Regions from separate parts of the Homo sapiens genome. Here region 2 is linked to region 1. The links come from fine-mapping of genetic effects on plasma protein levels. Region 1 holds a variant in brackets. A gene starts in the other region. All regions are shown on their reverse strands.

Region 1 (11,210 bases):
CACCCCTTCCACCAAACGGCACAGAGGCTGATGGTAACCACCACACGGGAACAGTTAACCCTGAGCCTGGCCTCTCCCTCTTAAGAGGCCGATTAGAAGGGAAAACAGGACAGTGTTGGCACAAAATAGTACTTGAAACCGTAAAAATAAAATAGAGGACATTAAGAATTTTGCCGTTTTCCCATCTGCATTAGTCCATTCTCACATTGCTATAAAGGACTGCCTGAGAGTGGGTAATTTATAAAGAAAAGAGGTTTAATTGACTTGCAGTTCCACAAGGCTGGCGAGGCCTCAGGAAACTTACAATCATGGTGGGTAAGGACGCAAACATGTGCTTCTTCACATGGCAGCAGGAGAGAGAAATTAGTGCCCAGTGAAGGGGGAAGCCCCTTATAAAACCATCAGATCTCATGAGAACTCACTTTCAAGAGAACAGGATGGCAGGAACCACGCCCATGATTCGGCCATTCCACTGGGTCCCGTGCACAACATGTGGGGATTATGGGAACTACAATTCAAGATAAGATTTGGGTGGGGACACAGCCCAACCATATCATTCCACCTCTGGCCCCTCCTAAACCGCATGTCCTCACAATTCAAAACACAATCATGCCCTTCCAGCCATCCCCCAAAGTCTTAACTCATTCCAGCATTAACCCAAAAGTCCAAGTCCAGAGTCTCATCTGAGACAAAGCAAGTCCCTTCTGCCTATAAGCCTGTAAAATCAAAAGCCAAGTGAGTTACTTCCTAGATACAGTGGGGGTACAGGCATTGGGTAAATACACCTATTCCAAATGGGAGAAATTGGCCAAAACAAAGGGGCTACAGGCCCCAGGCAAATCTGAAATCCAACAGGGCAGTCAAATCTTAAAGCTCCAAAATGATCTCCTTTGACTCCATGTCTCACATCCAGATCACACTGATGCAAGAGCTGGGTTCCCAAGGCCTTGGGCAGCTCCACCCCTGTGGCTATGCAGGGTACAGCCCCCCTCCCAGCTGCTTTCACAGGCTTGTGACAAGTGTCTGTGGCTTTTCCAGGTCCATGGTGCAAGCTGTTGTCGGTGGATCTACCATTCTGGGGTCTGGAGGATGGTGGCCCTTTTCTCACAGCTCCACTAGGCAGTGCCCTAGTAGGGACCCTGTGGAGGGATCCAACCCCACATTTCCCTTCCGTATTGCCCTAGCAGAGGTTCTCTGTGAAGACTCTACCCCTGCAGCACACTTCTGCCTGGACATCCAGTAGTTCCTATACATCCTCTGAAATCCAGGCAGAGGTTCCTAAACCTGAATTTTTAATTTATTAATTTATTTATGTTTGAGATGGCGTCTTGCTCTGTCACCCAGGCTGGAGTGCAGTGGCATGATCTTGGCTCACTGCAACTTCTGCCTCCCAGGTTCAAGTGATTCTCCCACCTCAGCCTCCCAGGTAGCTGGGACTAGAGGCGTGCACCACCATGCTTGGCTAATTTTTGTATTTTTAGTAGGGACACGGTTTCACCATGTTGGCCAGGCTGGTCTCAAACTCCTGACCTCAGGTGATCCACTTGCCTCGGCCTCCCAAAGTGTTGGGATTACAGGCGTGAGCCATTGCACCTAGCTCCCAAACCTCAATTCTTGACTTCTGGGCATCTGCAGGCCCAATACCACATGGAAACTGCCAAGGCTTGGGGCTTGCACCCTCTGAAGCAACAGTCTGAGCTGTACCTTGGCTCCTTTAGCCATGGCTGGGAGGCAGGGCACCCGAGACTACACAAAGCAGCAAGGCCCTGGGTCTGGTCCACTAAACCATTTTTTCCTCCTAGGCCTCGGGGCCTGTGATGGGAGGGGCTGCCCTGAAGACGTCTGACATGCCCTGGAGACATTTTCCCCACTGTCTTGGTGATTAACATTTGGCTCCTTGTTATGCAAATTTCTGCAGCCAGCTTAAATTTCTCCTCAGAAAATGGGCTTTTCTGTTTTATGGCATCATCACGCTGCAAATTTTTCAGTCTTTTATGGTTGGCTTCCCTTTTAAACATAAGTTCCAATTCCAAACCATATCTTTGTGAATACATAAAACTGAATGCTTTTAACAGCATCCAGGTCACATTTTGAACAGTTTGCTGCTTAGAAATTTCTTTCACTGGCTGGGCGCAGTGGCTCATGCCTGTAATCCCAGCACTTTGGGAGGCCAAGGCGGGCAGATCACAAGGTCAGGAGATCAAGACGCTCCTGGCCAACATGGTGAGACCCTGTCTCTACTAAAAATACAAAAATTAGCTGGGTGTGACAGCGTGCTTCTGTAGTTCCAGCTACTCAGGAAGCTGAGACAGGAGAATCGCTTGAACATGGGAGGCAGTGGTTGCAGTGAGCCGAGATTGCGCCACTGCACTCCAGCCTGGGTGACAAAGTGAGACTCCATCTCAGAAAAAAAAAAAAAAATTTATTTCACTAGATGCCCTAAATCATCTCTCACAAGTTCAAAGTTCCACAAATCTCTAGAGCAGGGGCAACATGCCACCAGTCTCTGCTAAAACATAGCAAGAGTCACCTTTATTCCAGTTTCCTACAAGTTCCTCTTCTCCGAGACCACCTCAGCCTGGACTTTGTTGGCCATATCACTATCAGGATTTTGGTCAAAGGCATTCAGCAAGTCTAGGAAGCGCCAGACTTTCCCACATCTTCCTGTCCTTTTCTGAGCCCTCCAAACGGTTCCAACCTCTGCCTGCTACCCAGTTCCAAAGTCACTTCCACATTTTTGGGTATCTTTACAGCAGTGTCCCACTGTAATAATAATTATTACAGTAATAATTTACTGTATTAGTCTTTTCTCATGCTGCTGATAAAGACATACCTGAGACTGGGTAATTTATAAAGGAAAGAGGTTTAATGGACTCACAGTTCCACATGGCTGGGGAGGCCTCACAATCATGGCGGAAGGCAGAGGGTCTTACACGGCGGCAGGCAAGAGAGCGTCTGCAGGGGAACTCCCATTTATAAAACCATCAGGTCTCAGCCAGGCGCAGTGGCTCACGCCTGTAATCCCAGCACTTTGGGAGGCTGAGGCGGGTGGATCACGAGGTCAGGAGATCGAGACCATCGTGGTTAACACGGTGAAACCCCATCTCTACTGAAAATACAAAAAATTAGCCGGGCGTAGTGGTGGGCACCTGTAGTCCCAGCTATTTGGGAGGCTGAGGCAGGAGAATGGCATGAACCTGGAAGGTGGAGCTTGCCGTGAGCCGAGATTGTGCCACTGCACTCCAGCCTGGGAGACAGAGCAAGACTCCATCTCAAACAAACACACAAAAAACAAAAACAACCATCAGGTCTCATGAGAGTTACTACCACAACAGTATGGGGAAAACTGCCCCCTGATTGAGTTGTTTCCACCTGTCCCTGCCCTTGACACATGGGAATTATTACAGTTCAAGGTGAGATTTGGGTGGGGATGTGAGGCCAAACCAAATCATCTTTGTTGTTGGTATCTGAGGAATCAACCTCAACATTTAAGGGATATCATCTCAATTAAAATTAAGAACTCTCGCCGGCCCGGTGGCTCACGCTTGTAATCCCAGAGCTTTGGGAGGCCAAGGCAGGCAAATCACCTGAGGTCAGGAGTTTGAGACCAGCCTGACTAACATGGAGAAACCCTGTCTCTACTAAAAATACAAAATTAGGGGCTGGGCACGGTGGCTCACACCTGTAATCCCAGCACTTTGGGAGGCCGAGGCCGGCAAATCACCCGAGGTCGGGAGTTTGAGACCAGCTTGGCCAACATGGTGAAACCCTGTCTCTACTAAAAATACAAAACATTAGCCAGGCGTGGTGGCTCATGCCTGTAATCCCAGCTACTTGGGAGGCTGAGGCAGAAGACTCGCTTGAACATGGGAGGTGGAGGTTGCAGTGAGCGGAGATCACACCACTGGACTCCAGCCCTGGTAACAGACTGAGACTCCATCTCAAAAAATAAATAAATAAAATAAAATAAAAATTAGCCAGGTGTGGTGGTTCATGCCTATAATCCCAGCTACTTGGGAGGCTGAGGCAGGAGAACTGCTTGAACCCAGGAGGCAGAGGTTGCAGTGAGCTGAGATCGCACCATTACACTCCAGCCTGGGCAACGAGCAAAACTCCATCTCAAAAAAAAAAAAAAAAAAAAAACTCACCAGAATCCTAACGAGAGGACAGAAAGGCCACACACCTGAGTGTGCGTGCTGAATGCTTTTGTTTTTTCTTGTATCTTGCAAATCAGAAATCAGCCAGCTAACTAGAAAATCGGCAAGAGACCGAAACCAGCAGTGGCTGAGGCCAGATGACCCTGTGGCTGTGTGCTGGACAAGATGCTCGGTCTCCCAGGTGATGGCCACCGTCCACTCGCCACTGGCCTGAGTGTAGACAGGTATGCACCCACAGGATGCAGAGCCACAGGGCTCGGTGGCATTGCTGGAAACAGTGAGAAGGACAGGGACAGATGTATTCCAGGACGTGACCTAGACATGGCCTCACCTCCCTCGGGTCCTGTCCTACAGAAAGCCAGGCCCTGTGCGGCCTGAAGACAGGCAGAATGCGGCTCATGGAGGAGCCTGGGAGGCCACCGGCCTTGAGCTGGGAGAGGCCACGGGGAGTGGGGCCATTGGGGGTGGCGGCAGTGATGGGGGCCTCTGGAACTCAATGGGCTGAATGTGTGTGTAGGCCTCTGCGTTACCACAGGAATCAAAGAGGCCTGGAGCCCCCTTACGCGGCTGCCGCAACCCTGGTGAGGCTCTGCCCGCCCGCGACACCCGGCCCCTCCCAAAGGAAGAGAACAGGGACAGATTCTCCCTTCCCACCTGGAATGTGTGGGGCTCCCAGGTGGGGTGCGCGGCCTGACGGAGGCCGGGGCCCCCACGGGGACCTCTCCTGAGAGGAGGCCGCCCGGGTCTGCTGGCCTCAGGCCCCAGGCCCCTGCTGAGTCTGCGTTTTCTGCTGAGTAAACGGATCGTGGGTCTTTCTGGGTGTGGACTTTCTCCCCGTGGATCTATAATTTCTCAGAAGAGGAGCCGAGACGCCACCTGGAAAATGATCAATTCTCGATAAAGGGAAGACGATGACAGTGGGCCGGCGGCTTCCCACAGCTCTGCACGGGGCCTGCCAGGTGAGGCCGGAGCTGAGGATGGGGTAGGGCCCTGGAAAACTGTGGTCTCCCCGAGCCCTGGCTGTGCCCCCGCCTGCACCCCTTCCGGCTGCTTCCCTGCACACTTTCCCACTGCCGAGGGACTGGTGGGCAGGCCCCACTGACAGCCAGGGGAGGGGCCTGCAGGGACCTGGAGGGGAGGGGCTGCACCTGCTCAGGCCCTGGGGGAGAGAGCGACTGGTTGGGAAGTGGTTTGAGCAGGTGGAGGGGAACCAGGGGCCTCTGGAGGCAGGTGGAGACGGAGCCCAGGGGTGGCCTTGGACATGGCTGGGCACACATTCCTGTGGCCTCTCTGCACACAAGCGGTGACTGTGGGGCGGCCAGGCCCTCACCAGAGCCTTGGGGGACAGCAAGGGGCAGGTGAGGCTTGTCTGAGGCACAAGACCTGGCTCCCATGGCCAGGCCACCCCCACACACTCCCCGAGGATGGCGCAGGGCAAAAGCAAACAGGCGCCTGCAGCCCTGCCAGGCATTCCTAGAAGAGGCTGGGGGCGGGGCAGTGGCCAGACACCAGCGCCCCTGGGGTCACGGGAGAGGCAGGGTGAGCTTGGGCCCTGGACAGCACCGTGGGCCTGAAGCCCAAACGGCAGCTCCCACCCAGGCTGTAGGGAACCCCCGGGAGGGCGGGTGGATGGCTGGGTGGGGCACGGGGAAGGGGCGGCAGCCCCTTAGCCCCACACGGCTGGCTACTCAGGCCAGGGGTGGGCTCAAGACCCCAGGAGCTGCCCGAGGAGCCCCCTGCCCGCAACAGGACCTGGTAAAACCCTGGGCTCCCCAAACCGGCCTCAAGCCCCAGCCCCTCCCAGGCTGCTGCAAGGGGTCCCCACCCCAACCTGGCTGCCCAGCCCTCCCCAGTCAGCCCTGCAGGGGGCCCGGGCACTGGCCGTCAGCCCCCAGGGCCGCATTACGGCTACCTCGGGCCCCGACTGAAGCTCCCTCACCCCCTGCACTGTCTGCACCCCAGGGCTCCGGGCTGATGCCGGCCGCCCGGCACGAGGGGGTTAACAGAGCCAGGGCCAGCTGGGTTGGGCCAGCCAGGTGACAGGCGCGGGCTGCCCCGCAGTGGGGAAATCCAGAGGGCAGGGGTGGCCGGCACAGCAGACGTACCCTCCCTCGCTGCCTGCCTGCAGCCTGCCCTGCATGCAGGATGGCCCTGAGGAAAGGTGAGGCCCCCGAGTGCCCCGCCACCCACTCTAGGGGTGGCCAGTCTGTGACCCTGAGCCCGCTGGGGAGAGGCCGGGGTAGCCCCCAAGGAAGCTCTGGGGGGCTCAGCTCTGGGGGTCTGCGGGGGACTCTGGGGAGCCCACAGTCGGAAATGCGGCTGCTGGGGTTGGCAGGGGGACACAGCTGTGCCTGGCACCAGGGGTCTCTGTCCCGTCCTCCACCCTAAGGGCGCTGGCGGCGGCACAGGGGAGGAGGGCCAGGTGCAGGCCGGACCCTTCAGCTCCCAGCACAGCGGCGGGAAGTGCCCCGCACGGCCCGCGTTGTGGGCCCGGCCCAGGCAGGAGACGTTGGCTCACACCCCATTGTCTCTGTGGGGTGACCCCTTGCAGCTTCGGCCACCCCCAAGCCTGAGCTGAGCTCCAGAGCTGGCTCAGGCCACTCCCAACCCATCGTGACAGAAGGGCAGTCGGGGGGGCCCCACCTCGCCCCTGCCACCATCCCAGCAATTCCACACTCTCTGAGGATGGGGGGGCCATACAGTAGAGGTTTTGGGTCATCGCTGCTTGGGAGCCTGCTGGCTGGGTCTGTGGGGCCTGTGGCCCCTTGTCCTGAAAGGCAATGTGAGCTTTGGTGGCCGACGGTCCAGGGTTCCTACCTGTCCCCCGACGGCGGTGCCCCGGTCCCCTCCCGCAGCACCCGACCAAGGCCTGGATGCAGGCAGGTGAGACCCCGCTGGGGGGCCTAACTGGGGCAGGAGGTGCCCAGCTCCCTGTCCAGCCTCTGAGGGCAGTGAGCGAGTGCCCACCAAGACCTGCTGCAGAATATTCTGAAAATGGCCGGACCTTGGCCAATGGCTCAGTTCCCTCCCCTTCCTCTAGGCCAACGTGGCAGACTGGCCTGGCTCAAGCGCCTGCCTTGGGGGTGCGGCTGCCACATGGCCAGACAGCCCGAGACCCAGCCTGGCCGAGCCCACGTGGCCTGCGCACAGCTGGAGAGCCAAGCCCTGAGCGTCTGTGCAGCGGGGCGGGGCGGCCACTCCTCTGTCCCATGGGGTGGGAAGCGCAGTGTCAGCTTTTGAGCCGGAGGACCTGTGGGGCTCACCGGCTTCTTCGCATCTCAGCGGGTGACCTCGAGCCTCAGTTCACACCTGAGCGCCGCTTCCGGCTGTGCTGGTATCAGGCTCACTCGGGCAGAGCCCTCCTCGGGCCGCCTCCCCAAGCCTCTCCCCCCGCAGGAGGCCTGGCCCTGGCGCTGCTGCTGCTGTCCTGGGTGGCACTGGGCCCCCGCAGCCTGGAGGGAGCAGACCCCGGAACGCCGGGGGAAGCCGAGGGCCCAGCGTGCCCGGCCGCCTGTGTCTGCAGCTACGATGACGACGCGGATGAGCTCAGCGTCTTCTGCAGCTCCAGGAACCTCACGCGCCTGCCTGATGGAGTCCCGGGCGGCACCCAAGCCCTGTGGCTGGACGGCAACAACCTCTCGTCCGTCCCCCCGGCAGCCTTCCAGAACCTCTCCAGCCTGGGCTTCCTCAACCTGCAGGGCGGCCAGCTGGGCAGCCTGGAGCCACAGGCGCTGCTGGGCCTAGAGAACCTGTGCCACCTGCACCTGGAGCGGAACCAGCTGCGCAGCCTGGCACTCGGCACGTTTGCACACACGCCCGCGCTGGCCTCGCTCGGCCTCAGCAACAACCGTCTGAGCAGGCTGGAGGACGGGCTCTTCGAGGGCCTCGGCAGCCTCTGGGACCTCAACCTCGGCTGGAATAGCCTGGCGGTGCTCCCCGATGCGGCGTTCCGCGGCCTGGGCAGCCTGCGCGAGCTGGTGCTGGCGGGCAACAGGCTGGCCTACCTGCAGCCCGCGCTCTTCAGCGGCCTGGCCGAGCTCCGGGAGCTGGACCTGAGCAGGAACGCGCTGCGGGCCATCAAGGCAAACGTGTTCGTGCAGCTGCCCCGGCTCCAGAAACTCTACCTGGACCGCAACCTCATCGCTGCCGTGGCCCCGGGCGCCTTCCTGGGCCTGAAGGCGCTGCGATGGCTGGACCTGTCCCACAACCGCGTGGCTGGCCTCCTGGAGGACACGTTCC[C/T]CGGTCTGCTGGGCCTGCGTGTGCTGCGGCTGTCCCACAACGCCATCGCCAGCCTGCGGCCCCGCACCTTCAAGGACCTGCACTTCCTGGAGGAGCTGCAGCTGGGCCACAACCGCATCCGGCAGCTGGCTGAGCGCAGCTTTGAGGGCCTGGGGCAGCTTGAGGTGCTCACGCTAGACCACAACCAGCTCCAGGAGGTCAAGGCGGGCGCTTTCCTCGGCCTCACCAACGTGGCGGTCATGAACCTCTCTGGGAACTGTCTCCGGAACCTTCCGGAGCAGGTGTTCCGGGGCCTGGGCAAGCTGCACAGCCTGCACCTGGAGGGCAGCTGCCTGGGACGCATCCGCCCGCACACCTTCACCGGCCTCTCGGGGCTCCGCCGACTCTTCCTCAAGGACAACGGCCTCGTGGGCATTGAGGAGCAGAGCCTGTGGGGGCTGGCGGAGCTGCTGGAGCTCGACCTGACCTCCAACCAGCTCACGCACCTGCCCCACCGCCTCTTCCAGGGCCTGGGCAAGCTGGAGTACCTGCTGCTCTCCCGCAACCGCCTGGCAGAGCTGCCGGCGGACGCCCTGGGCCCCCTGCAGCGGGCCTTCTGGCTGGACGTCTCGCACAACCGCCTGGAGGCATTGCCCAACAGCCTCTTGGCACCACTGGGGCGGCTGCGCTACCTCAGCCTCAGGAACAACTCACTGCGGACCTTCACGCCGCAGCCCCCGGGCCTGGAGCGCCTGTGGCTGGAGGGTAACCCCTGGGACTGTGGCTGCCCTCTCAAGGCGCTGCGGGACTTCGCCCTGCAGAACCCCAGTGCTGTGCCCCGCTTCGTCCAGGCCATCTGTGAGGGGGACGATTGCCAGCCGCCCGCGTACACCTACAACAACATCACCTGTGCCAGCCCGCCCGAGGTCGTGGGGCTCGACCTGCGGGACCTCAGCGAGGCCCACTTTGCTCCCTGCTGACCAGGTCCCCGGACTCAAGCCCCGGACTCAGGCCCCCACCTGGCTCACCTTGTGCTGGGGACAGGTCCTCAGTGTCCTCAGGGGCCTGCCCAGTGCACTTGCTGGAAGACGCAAGGGCCTGATGGGGTGGAAGGCATGGCGGCCCCCCCAGCTGTCATCAATTAAAGGCAAAGGCAATCGAATCTAACAGGCACAGTGGGTGACTGCGAACGTGAAACCAGGGAGGGGGCTGGGGGCTCGGCGCGCAGCTGTGGTCTCAGAGCTTTGGGAGGCCGAGGCGGGCGGATCGCTTGAGCCCAGGAGTTTGAGAGACCGTCCTGGGCAACACAAGAGAGACCCCGTCTCTACAAAAAATAAAAAAAATTAGCATAGCATGGTGGCCCATGCCTGTGGTCCTAGGGAGGCCGAGGCAGGAGGACTACTGGAGCCTGGGAGGTAGAGGCTGCCGTGAGCCAAGACTGCACCACTGCACTCCAGCCTGGGCGGCAGAGCAACACCCTGTCTCAAAAAAACCCACCTGGCTCAGGGGAGGGGAGGATGGTGTTGCCTGGGTACGCCTTGGTCTCCTCACCTCTCTCCTCCCCGGCTTGGCCACGCCCAGGGCCCCCGCCTGGATCCTGCCCCGCCACCGCCCTGGCCAACTGCCCCACACCCATGTGTCTTCCTGGTCCCCGTGGCTGCCCCTCGGGCTCCCCAGAACATCCTCCAGGAATGATGGCACCAACTCGAATCCCCAGGGGCTCTGCGTCTCACCCCTCCTCTTTGAGGGATCGCCCTGAGGACCAGGCAGTGTCCCCGAGGGGTGTGGTCCAGGCAGCCAGGGCGCGGCTGAGGTGGGGTGAGGAGGGAGCGCGGGGCGGGCCGTCCGCCTTGCGTGGGAAGCCGCACCCCCTGCAGATGCCGTGGGCGTTTGTCTCTGCCCCCCCCAGGCACCGGCATCGTCAGCCCAGGTGCTCCTGGTGCCCTCTCACCCACCCAGAGGCCGCCCGGGTTGGTTCCGGGCCCCCACCTCCAGGGTCCTCCCCTGCTGAAGGCTGAGCTCTTCCTTTGGGAAAAATGGCGCGTTCTGCTTTCTGGAAGGGCTTTCCTTTCGGGTCTCACTGGGAAGAGGTGCAGGGGACCCCTGGGATTGGAGCTCCCTTCTCAACCTGACTTCTGGTCTCTGTCCCGGGAGGGGCCCCTTTAGTGTCCCAGGGAGGCCATTCTTCCACGGCGAAGGGGCCAGCTGTCAGGTTTATCACAAAATCTCCCCGAATTCCCACCAAATAAGATGCAAACACATCAGCACCTGGGCCCAGGGGCTTGTTGACAACGGAACGAACGAACCTGCCGGCCTGGCCCAGTCCAGCCCAGAAACTTACAGAAGCAGGTGCTGTCTGACCCCGAAGGACAGAAGACTCTAGAAACATCAGATCTGTCGCCACAGCAGCGGACACGTTTAATGGCAGGCGCCTCTACAGTTACAAAACATGCCTGAGGTCAGTTCGCCCCCTTAGGGGGCACTCCCCGAGCTAAACACAGATGACAGCGACCCAGGGTGCTGGAGGCCCGGGGTCACCTGAGGACTGCAGAAGTCCCGCGCTCCGCTAACTGTGTGGACACGCGGCTGCCAGGGGCACAGGTAGGCAACATGGATGGGAAGAGAGCCCAGGCCGCCCCCGTCTCACAGCTGCAGAGCACGCAGACCACGGCACTGCAGGCCAACCAGGCAGAGCTGCTGGTGCGACACATCCTGGGGCTGGGCTGGTCGGGGAGAAGCTCTCCGGCTGACGCTGCCTGGGCCTGCCCCTGCAGGGCCCGGGAACCGAGCCCAGGCCTCTGTTTCTCTGAGAGGCTGGAGCAGAGCCCTTGGTGG
Region 2 (10,843 bases), not on the chromosome of region 1:
AGGTGACCCGGGCTCCGGGCGTGCGCACGAGGAGCAGGTGCCCGGGCGAGTCTCGAGCTGCACGCCCCCGAGCTCGGCCCCGGCTGCTCAGGGCGAAGCACGGGCCCCCGCAGCCGTGCCTGCGCCGACCCGCCCCCCTCCCAACCCCCACTCCTGGGCGCGCCGTTCCGGGGCGTGTCCTGGGCCACCCCGGCTTCTATATAGCGGCCGGCGCGCCCGGGCCGCCCAGATGCGAGCACTGCGGCTGGGCGCTGAGGATCAGCCGCTTCCTGCCTGGATTCCACAGCTTCGCGCCGTGTACTGTCGCCCCATCCCTGCGCGCCCAGCCTGCCAAGCAGCGTGCCCCGGTTGCAGGCGTCATGCAGCGGGCGCGACCCACGCTCTGGGCCGCTGCGCTGACTCTGCTGGTGCTGCTCCGCGGGCCGCCGGTGGCGCGGGCTGGCGCGAGCTCGGCGGGCTTGGGTCCCGTGGTGCGCTGCGAGCCGTGCGACGCGCGTGCACTGGCCCAGTGCGCGCCTCCGCCCGCCGTGTGCGCGGAGCTGGTGCGCGAGCCGGGCTGCGGCTGCTGCCTGACGTGCGCACTGAGCGAGGGCCAGCCGTGCGGCATCTACACCGAGCGCTGTGGCTCCGGCCTTCGCTGCCAGCCGTCGCCCGACGAGGCGCGACCGCTGCAGGCGCTGCTGGACGGCCGCGGGCTCTGCGTCAACGCTAGTGCCGTCAGCCGCCTGCGCGCCTACCTGCTGCCAGCGCCGCCAGCTCCAGGTGAGCCGCCCGCGCCAGGTGCGCTGCGTGCAGCACCCGGCGCACTGGCGCCGAAGGGCCTGGGGGTTGCTGGGTGCCGCTGCGGGAGACTCCGCTTTTCTTCTCACTGGAGATAATATGTGGGGAAACTGAAGGCGCTCCGGGAAAGGTGAAGGCGGTCGCCGGAGGGACCCTCCCCAGCCGGCCCTCTACTTGCTCGATTCTCTAAGTGCAGAGTACTTGTAAATTGCAAAGCGCTTTCAGTGAAAATGGGTTAAAGGTTTCCGGAGCTGAGGGGAGCGGTACCGATGTTTAGCTGTTGGAAAGATCCTGGACACAGGAGATTCTCCTCGCCCCGCACGGGGGTGCACACGGACTGCAATCCCAGGGATGCTTGGGGATGGGGGGGATATAGGCGGATTTGGACCAAGGAAGGTGGGCAGGCACGTTGTAGGAAATAGTACCTCTCTTTTAAAATACTGACTTTGCACAGCCTTTTGGTTTGCAAAGCAATGTCTAGTCCCGGTATGTCCAAAAACAAGTAAAGTGGATTCGGGTTTTGATATCTTCTGCGGTTGGAAAACCTGAAGCTGAAAAAGAAGTAACTTCTTAAGGTTACCCAGCGGCCACAACAGAGTGTAGGTTTGAACTCCGCGTGCCACTTTCAGTACCATACCATTCTTACAACTCGGGCCACCCCTGCACCTGCGCCGACCTCAAACAAACTTCCAGGTGCGTGGTGGGTGCGGGCAATGTGGACTAAGTCAATTTCAATGACACGGAAGGGAATTGGAATCAGTCCTAGGGCTGTCTCCCTTCTTAATCTGAAATGGGGGGGGGAATGAGATGTTGTTAAGGGGAGCCCCAGAAGAGGAAAAATGCAAACATTTGGCAGAGTTACCCTCTTGGCTTAGCCACTATCAGTATCAGGCAGACAGCGACTCTGGTAAGGGCATCACATTGTTCCCTTAAAAAAAGGAGCGGGGGTTGTTTAAATGGATTTGGCAGCTGTTCTTTCAAGCATTCTTAGCCAGCCTCACCTAGTTATATGAGAAATAAAGTTCCTGCCTTGCACAGCTGAAGGCTGGGAGAATTCTCCCCATCCTAATTCCCCCAACTCCCCAACGATCACGTTGGACAGATGTCACTGGGCAGGCCCCCATCTAGGGCTAGCAGGATGAACAGTCCCTTTATAATTTATGTAGCTGTAGAGTTCCACGCCCGGGTGAAGTTATTTTCTGGCTCGGCAAGGCTGGCTCTGTTCACCCCTGAGAAATGCTGGATTCATGGAAAGGCAAGATGCCTGAAACATACACTGGCTCTGGTCAGCTGTTAAAGCTGCTGGAGGCATTTGTCTCTCGGGGCAAAGTTATGTCATTTGCCAAGTGTCGTACATTATTGTGCATTTTGGGGTATTCAAAAAGTGATCTTAGAAATACTGATACACATCGTCATTCTTGGGCTTTAGCAATCATCATGATTACCACCTTAGTAGCACTGTAGTATAGGTTGATGTGAGTTATAAGATTATAAAAAGATCTAAGTGACTTCTAGAATCTATTTGACAAAAAAAGGTAAATTTTCGACAGTCAAAAGTCACAATTATCTGTTGCTTAAATAGAACTGTTTTGTCTTCATGCCCTAGTCTGCAGCCCAGGCATTAAGAAGAAACCAAGGAAATTTAAGAAATTACTCAAGGTTCTTAGAAAAGAAGTATAAATACGTTTATTTACATGTTCTTAGAGTATTTACATTCTTAGTATCTCTTTTATCTCAGTATTTCCTTGAAAAAGAAAGCAAGCTAAGATTAAAAGAAATTGAAACCAAATCCTCGCAGGTAGGGACCTCCTCTGTGAGGCTCTGTGCTGGACCCTGGGAATGTGTGCTTCCCAAGGTATGAAACCCCTTGGGGAACTTTACAGCAGGACCTCAGTGAGCTGTTTGGCAGGTGAGGAAACTAAGACCCAGAGAGGAGAGGGACTTTCCTAAGGCCCTGGTGAGTGACCTGCCAGTAGCCACTTCCAGGGGAGAGCAGAGCATCTGCAGCCAAATCATTGCAGCCCCAGGTAGCTTTCTAGAATAGACTGTGGACCAGATGGGCCACCTGAGCTCCCTGCTAGGGTTACACATTATAGCCCTGTTTGTTGTAGTAGAGAAATTTCATGACTCTCAATTGTGGACTTAAGCCGATGCCTCCAGACCTTGGCATGGTCCACAGGCCCTGGGAGCATGGGCTCTGAATGTAGCCTTTGATCCCCATAGCGGTCTTACAGCCCCTCCAAGTTCATTCTGAAGAAGGAATGGAGTGAGAATCCTGGCTGCAGATCCAGTCTTGAATTTAGTCATATACTTAAAATTCCAATTCAACTGTTAACATTCCAGCATCCATTTTAAGCATCAGACTTTCTTCATTTAGCACTTTTTATTATAAAAGGGAGATCTGCTGGAGGGGGATTTCTCCTACCCCACCCCCACCCAGGGAAGGAAAAGCTCTTTGGCACTTAGAAGTCTGAGCCGTGAGTGGGACTTTGGCATTGTCTGCATCCATGTGCTGCTGTGTTCACCCGGGGTGAAAAGGACTCACTTAGGCAGGCACCAGCAAGATGCACAGGGTCTGTGTAGACCTTGAGTTTTAGAGATGTAACGGGGACCTAGAAAACAAGCCACCAACATGCTTGCATGATTCTGAGCCCCTGAGGCAAAACGCTTTGCAGGTAATAATTCAGTTTTCCCATCTGAGCTGGACACCAAGCTCTTATAAGCGTGTTTACCTGGTAGCATTGAGGACGGTACTGGTCAACCTTGGAATTCCCATAAGGGCTTGTTACAACTCAGACTGCTGCCGCCACTCCAGCGTTTCCGGAGTGGAGAATGTGCATTTCTTCCAAGTCCCCGGGCTGCCGCTGCTCCCGCGGGTGGGAGGACCACACTTGGAGTTGACTGCAAAATTTCTGAGCCGGCGCTGCAGCAGCCTCCCGTGGCTCAGGTCTGCCCCCTGCCGGTGGAAGATGAAGCATACTGCCTTCACCTACTGAGGGGCACTGAAGCGTTTGTCTGCCTTCTTTAGTTGCAGCTACTTAGGAAGAGCACCTGTCAGATTGACTTTCAAACAGATAACTTCTTGAGGTAGAGCAACCACCATGTAGTGAGTAGTATGATGGAATAATACTTCATCGAGGTATTTTAAAAAAAAAAACTCACTTGGATTGCCAACTAATATTGTCATTTACATGTGACCTGGTTGCAACGTTAAGATTTTTAAAAGACTGTGATAGATATTGATGACTCTCATGTGTTTGTCTCTCTTGGGCGTTTTAAGGAAATGCTAGTGAGTCGGAGGAAGACCGCAGCGCCGGCAGTGTGGAGAGCCCGTCCGTCTCCAGCACGCACCGGGTGTCTGATCCCAAGTTCCACCCCCTCCATTCAAAGATAATCATCATCAAGAAAGGGCATGCTAAAGACAGCCAGCGCTACAAAGTTGACTACGAGTCTCAGAGCACAGATACCCAGAACTTCTCCTCCGAGTCCAAGCGGGAGACAGAATATGTGAGAGCTTTTCCTCTTGTTAAAGGAGGAGGGCAAGACCTGCCAAGCCTGGGTACTCAGAGCCTCTTGAGGGCAATTCTTACTCAACAAACCCCAGCGCCTGGCTGATGGGTGGGCAACCCCTAGCCCCTCTGTGCCCTACCTCTCTCCTCTCCTTACATAAAGAATATTGACCCTTTTGGAGAATCTTATGAGGATCAAGCTGAAATAACACTCTTAAAAGCATATGGGATGTCATAAAGACCTCTGCAGATAATGAAAAATATTCTCATAAAGATAGTTTTATTTACTTCATCCTCTATGCTTGTTGACCTGCTATTGGTTCCATACCAGCTTCTGTGCCTTACTCTGGGAAGAGCAAAAAGGAGACAGGGAGTGATGGTTAGCTTATTCGGGGGACTTTCGTGCTACATCAGACATAAGGTATCTGAGGAGCAAATTACAGGTCCCACTTTTGGTAGTTGTGCAGCATCGTAAGATTTTTAAAGCACACATTCTAGAGTAAAAACTGTGACTCTGTTGCTCTGGTCCTTCCTGATCCCCAGGGTCCCTGCCGTAGAGAAATGGAAGACACACTGAATCACCTGAAGTTCCTCAATGTGCTGAGTCCCAGGGGTGTACACATTCCCAACTGTGACAAGAAGGGATTTTATAAGAAAAAGCAGGTGAGTGAGGTCCTCAGTGTGTTTTCTTCCTCTTCTGTTGACACAGAGGAGAAACCCATCTCACCAGCCCCCAGGCTCTTCTGGCCATAGCTCTAACTCTGAGCCTGTGCAGCACCAGTGCCCAGGACTTGGTGCCAGTCTCAGGAGGTCAGACCAAGGGCTGCTTTGACTTGTTGCTCTGAGTGCTGCTATATTGGCCATAATCCTCAACCCTAGTGCCTTTCCACCACCCGCTTCCCACTCCTGTCCTTTCAATGGTTCACCCACAGGGCGGACAAGATGCTGCCCAGTGGCACCCTTTATAAACTGCAAGTGGACATGTTAACACATTTGTTAATGCTGCGTCAGGGAGTGACATTTCAAACAACTATTATAGTCAGTTTCCAAGAAGTGTGACATGAGGTCATACCACAAAAAGCTTACCCTGAAATCCCACAATCGTCCCCTTTCCTACTGATGCCTTCCCGATAGTGAGCAGGTTGCAATATTAAGATTTTGAAAAGGCTGTTGCTAGATGTTGGTGACTCGTGTGTCTCTGTCTCCCTTGGGCTTTTCAAGGAAATGCTAGTGAGTGGGGGGATGACTGCAGCATGGCCAGCTTGGAGAGCCCAGCCATCCCCAGCACATACCAGGTGTCTGTCTTGGCGTGGAGGGGATGGAACTTGAAATCAGACACTCGGTCCATGCTGGGGATGGCCAGTCTCTCCAAACTGGCCATGTGGTCTTCCTCCGACTCACTGGCATTTCCCTAGAAAGTCCAAGTGAGAAGAAGGCATGAGAGTCATCAACATCAAACAACAGTCTTTTCAAAATCTTTATATTGCAACATAGTCCCATTCCTGGAAAAGGAATGGAGTGAGAATCCTGGCTACACATCAGCCCCAAATGTAGTCATATGCCTAAAATCCCAATTAACCTGAAAATGATCAAACAAATTTAAGATATAGTAATATTAAGCTGTAATAAATATGCTTCTATAGGCTTTGTGTTATGTGATGGCACTATTTCAATTGGCTTTCTAATTGGACAATTGATACTATGCTATCTACAGAATTGGCCTTTGGAGACCTAAGTGAGCCACAGTGGCCTCAGGGTGACCATATACTAGGATTCATAGTAGTGGCCACAGTCAGAAAGCCTAAGCTTTCCTCCATTGCCATTGCTCGTTTATACCCACGTTTTCTGTCAAAGTCATATTCATTCAACAAAGTCATACTGAGAAGGTGTCATGTGAGGCTGGATGTGGGCTCCAAAGTCATAGCTGTGACATTCGCAGGCAGCGGGGATGTTCTCAGTCCCACATTTGGCAGAGAAGTCAGTCAAGAGGTTCTACAAGGGCTGGTGTCCACCTTATACTCCTAGAAACACAAAACTGCCCCCACCCCCGCTTTCTTGGAGCAGGAAGTTACACCCACACGCATGCACAGGCGCACACTCAGCGGGCCTAGGCACGCATGGCTCTTGTGTTGCCTTAGCTGAAATTTCTGTTGTGCTTTCTCAGCATAGCAGAGTCACGCTGGCAAACCATCATGCGCCCTGGCCACCGACCTGACACCAGACCCAGGAGCATTCACTTCTCTGTCTTCTGTTTCTCTCCCACAGTGTCGCCCTTCCAAAGGCAGGAAGCGGGGCTTCTGCTGGTGTGTGGATAAGTATGGGCAGCCTCTCCCAGGCTACACCACCAAGGGGAAGGAGGACGTGCACTGCTACAGCATGCAGAGCAAGTAGACGCCTGCCGCAAGGGTGAGTACTCAGGAGGGGCAGCCTGGGGCTCCAGGGCCTCACTGTCCTTGGACCAGCCTCAGGGGCTGGGCGTGGCCACTGGCCCTTCCCCAGGCTTACAGACCCAGGAGCTGCAGCTCAGGGCCAGAAAGAGCAAAGCAAATAGGACAGAGCCCTCAGAAGGGTGCAGGGAGAGGGAGACCCCATCAACCCAACCAAACAAGTGTGGGGAAGGAGGCCGGCCAGTGCACCTCAGGGACACTCTGCTTTATCTCAGATACCTCACAGCACCTAAGCTATCATTCATCCACACACAAAGTGAAGATTTTCAAAGTTAGGCTTTACCCGTGAGGTCTGGAGGTCCATTTATCTTCACAGAGAAACCGTTTTAATCCGCAAGAACCTGCTAAAGATACATGTTTCTAAATTAAAGATGTGAATGTGAGACAGCTGAAATAGCTCAGTTGGGAGAGCATCAGTTTGAAGATGCAGCTTTTTTTTTCTGTAAAATATATAATGAATATTCTGTTAGTCTGTGGCTAATATAATTTTAATAAAGTTAATTTAAATCTGATAGAAAAATGAAATTTTAAACGATAATTTTAGAGAATGCTATTATATCCAGTCTTCTTTTTTCTTTTAATAAATGAGGGAACTATTGGGGGAAAGGAATAAATACATTTTCTTTCATTTTATTAAGACAAATTTAGTAAGCAGAAGAAATTTGCATGTTTAGTTATAAGGGTTTCTTTTTTCCTTACAAGTTGGAAAAAATAATTCTAATTTAAGGGTAACTCTTTGACAATGAACACTGTGAGCAGCATCTGGTACTCGTTGCTTTGTTTGAAAACATGAGTTGAGACCCCAGCCCTGCACTTGCAGGCCTAGTGCCATTAGCCTGCAGGCTGTGCTGGATATCTCAGGGCAAGAGTCGAGCCCTTTTGATTTTGGGGGGATTATTTCAATATATTTCTTTTTCTTTTTGTTTTAGTTAATGTGGAGCTCAAATATGCCTTATTTTGCACAAAAGACTGCCAAGGACATGACCAGCAGCTGGCTACAGCCTCGATTTATATTTCTGTTTGTGGTGAACTGATTTTTTTTAAACCAAAGTTTAGAAAGAGGTTTTTGAAATGCCTATGGTTTCTTTGAATGGTAAACTTGAGCATCTTTTCACTTTCCAGTAGTCAGCAAAGAGCAGTTTGAATTTTCTTGTCGCTTCCTATCAAAATATTCAGAGACTCGAGCACAGCACCCAGACTTCATGCGCCCGTGGAATGCTCACCACATGTTGGTCGAAGCGGCCGACCACTGACTTTGTGACTTAGGCGGCTGTGTTGCCTATGTAGAGAACACGCTTCACCCCCACTCCCCGTACAGTGCGCACAGGCTTTATCGAGAATAGGAAAACCTTTAAACCCCGGTCATCCGGACATCCCAACGCATGCTCCTGGAGCTCACAGCCTTCTGTGGTGTCATTTCTGAAACAAGGGCGTGGATCCCTCAACCAAGAAGAATGTTTATGTCTTCAAGTGACCTGTACTGCTTGGGGACTATTGGAGAAAATAAGGTGGAGTCCTACTTGTTTAAAAAATATGTATCTAAGAATGTTCTAGGGCACTCTGGGAACCTATAAAGGCAGGTATTTCGGGCCCTCCTCTTCAGGAATCTTCCTGAAGACATGGCCCAGTCGAAGGCCCAGGATGGCTTTTGCTGCGGCCCCGTGGGGTAGGAGGGACAGAGAGACAGGGAGAGTCAGCCTCCACATTCAGAGGCATCACAAGTAATGGCACAATTCTTCGGATGACTGCAGAAAATAGTGTTTTGTAGTTCAACAACTCAAGACGAAGCTTATTTCTGAGGATAAGCTCTTTAAAGGCAAAGCTTTATTTTCATCTCTCATCTTTTGTCCTCCTTAGCACAATGTAAAAAAGAATAGTAATATCAGAACAGGAAGGAGGAATGGCTTGCTGGGGAGCCCATCCAGGACACTGGGAGCACATAGAGATTCACCCATGTTTGTTGAACTTAGAGTCATTCTCATGCTTTTCTTTATAATTCACACATATATGCAGAGAAGATATGTTCTTGTTAACATTGTATACAACATAGCCCCAAATATAGTAAGATCTATACTAGATAATCCTAGATGAAATGTTAGAGATGCTATATGATACAACTGTGGCCATGACTGAGGAAAGGAGCTCACGCCCAGAGACTGGGCTGCTCTCCCGGAGGCCAAACCCAAGAAGGTCTGGCAAAGTCAGGCTCAGGGAGACTCTGCCCTGCTGCAGACCTCGGTGTGGACACACGCTGCATAGAGCTCTCCTTGAAAACAGAGGGGTCTCAAGACATTCTGCCTACCTATTAGCTTTTCTTTATTTTTTTAACTTTTTGGGGGGAAAAGTATTTTTGAGAAGTTTGTCTTGCAATGTATTTATAAATAGTAAATAAAGTTTTTACCATTAAAAAAATATCTTTCCCTTTGTTATTGACCATCTCTGGGCTTTGTATCACTAATTATTTTATTTTATTATATAATAATTATTTTATTATAATAAAATCCTGAAAGGGGAAAATATTTTAGCTGTAGTGGAAAACTTCATAACCACAAATGTTTCCCTGCTTTCCCTTTTAGCAAAAGAACCCAAGTCAGTTTCCATGGCTTTGTGGGAAGCCTATGGAGGCATTGGGTCATATCTGCAAGATGGTCCAATTCTAGGAGGTTGTGTTGTTGGGACAGTCTGTGGCCCAGGTTTGATCAGGTCAGCAATGTGCACCTATGTGACTGGTCCTTGCCTTTTTTGGGTTGTGTCCTGTATTGTCCCATCTAACACTAGCAGCCATCCACAGACAAGCAGGGAAGGACCAGAACAGACACTCAGCAATTCAGTCTCGTGTCCTTTACCGCTTTGTCCCCTTCCCATCTCCAATCAGAGAGTGGCCCTTCTCTGCTCCAAGCAGAAGGGGTTCTGGGATCTAAGCCCCCTCATCTGCAGCCTTGGAAGAATTGTTACTTGTCAAAGCCACTTTAGACAAAACACTGAGCCTGTGGCTTCAGAGCATCCAAGGATAAACTGCAGTCGAAGAGTTACCTCCTGTCGAGTTACCTCCTGTCTAGCGCCATGTCTGATTTGTTGATGAAACATCTAAAATGATACCCTTATCACGTGTTGTATGTGATGAGCAGCAAGCCGGTTCTGTAAGTGTTCAGAGGACTGGTATTGTGGTGTGTGGTCTCAGGCTGATCACATGAGAAACCAGGACAAATGAGAAAGCAGGCCCCTTGGGGGTGCTGTGACTGCAAGGCTGTGAGGATGGAGGGAGACAGTGAGCAGAAGGAGCCCATTGCAGGGAGCAGGCACCAAGCGTCACGGAGAGTTGTGCGGCAGAATCCTGGAGCACCTGGGGAGCGAGGCCAAGTGTCTGGAAATCCAGGACCGGAACGTGGCAACCTCTTGGGAGCTGCTGAAGAGCTATGAGCTACAAAATAATGCTTGCCTTCTAAGCCCACTGGGTTTGTTTTCCTGGGAGCCACCAACTCATGTGCCCTTTCTTGTCCTCATTTCTTAACCTCTAACTTCTGCTGCTTCCCACACTTCATGATGATTAATTCTATGTGTCAACTTGACTGGGCCATGGGGTGCCCAGGTACAGCATCTGTGAGGGTGATACTGTGAGCGTAGTATCTGTGAAGGTGTTTCCAGATAAGATTAGCATTTAAATCAGTGGACTCAGTAAAATAGATTGCCCTCCCCAATGTGGGCAGGCATCCATCGATCCATTAAGGTTCTGAATAGAACAAAAGGCAGAGGAAAGAAGGGTTTGTGCCTTTTTTCTGTCTGCGTGGGCAGAATTGCACCACCAGCTTTCCTGGTTCTCCAGCTTGCAGATTACAGATGGTGAGACTTAGCCTCCATACTTAGCCAATTTTTTGTAATAAGTCTTTTTTGGTGGGTGATTAGAGATAAGTAGGTAGATAGACTAGATAGATGATAGATTGATAGATTAGATAGATAGGTAGATTAGACAGAGATAGATACATAGATGATAGATAGATAGATAGATAGATAGATAGATAGATAGATAGATAGATAGACAGACAGATAGATATAACCTGTTAGTTCTGTTTCTCTGGGAAACCCTGACACAATACCTATGATCAACTA

Which allele goes with the higher level. Alleles are on the strand shown, and positions count from the first base shown. The strength of an association depends on the size of the effect and on how common the allele is.
With allele C in place of T in region 1, the plasma level of the protein whose gene starts at base 228 in region 2 is higher (moderate association).

What was found. PIP is the posterior inclusion probability: the model's chance that the variant is causal. Protein levels are from antibody-based Olink assays in UK Biobank. Linkage for the fine-mapping came from a reference panel and not from the study's own genotypes, which makes the PIPs less certain.
Region 2: IGFBP3 starts here. The variant in region 1 is fine-mapped to the plasma level of the IGFBP3 protein (UK Biobank, PIP above 0.99).

The regions. Positions count from the first base shown.
Region 1 is chr16:1,788,745-1,799,954 of GRCh38, reverse strand. It overlaps NUBP2 (NUBP iron-sulfur cluster assembly factor 2, cytosolic), which reads right to left. Exons shown (of 7, transcript NM_012225.4): 7 at 10,769-11,210. IGFALS (insulin like growth factor binding protein acid labile subunit) reads left to right here and starts at 6,250. Exons shown (of 2, transcript NM_004970.3): 1 at 6,250-6,318; 2 at 7,554-9,542. The coding sequence starts at 6,303. The coding sequence ends at 9,355. The variant C/T (reference allele first, on the strand shown) is at 8,397.
Region 2 is chr7:45,910,657-45,921,499 of GRCh38, reverse strand. IGFBP3 (insulin like growth factor binding protein 3) reads left to right here and starts at 228. Exons shown (of 5, transcript NM_000598.5): 1 at 228-762; 2 at 4,061-4,287; 3 at 4,833-4,952; 4 at 6,555-6,695; 5 at 7,666-9,255. The coding sequence starts at 360. The coding sequence ends at 6,680. RefSeq lists an enhancer at 1-425.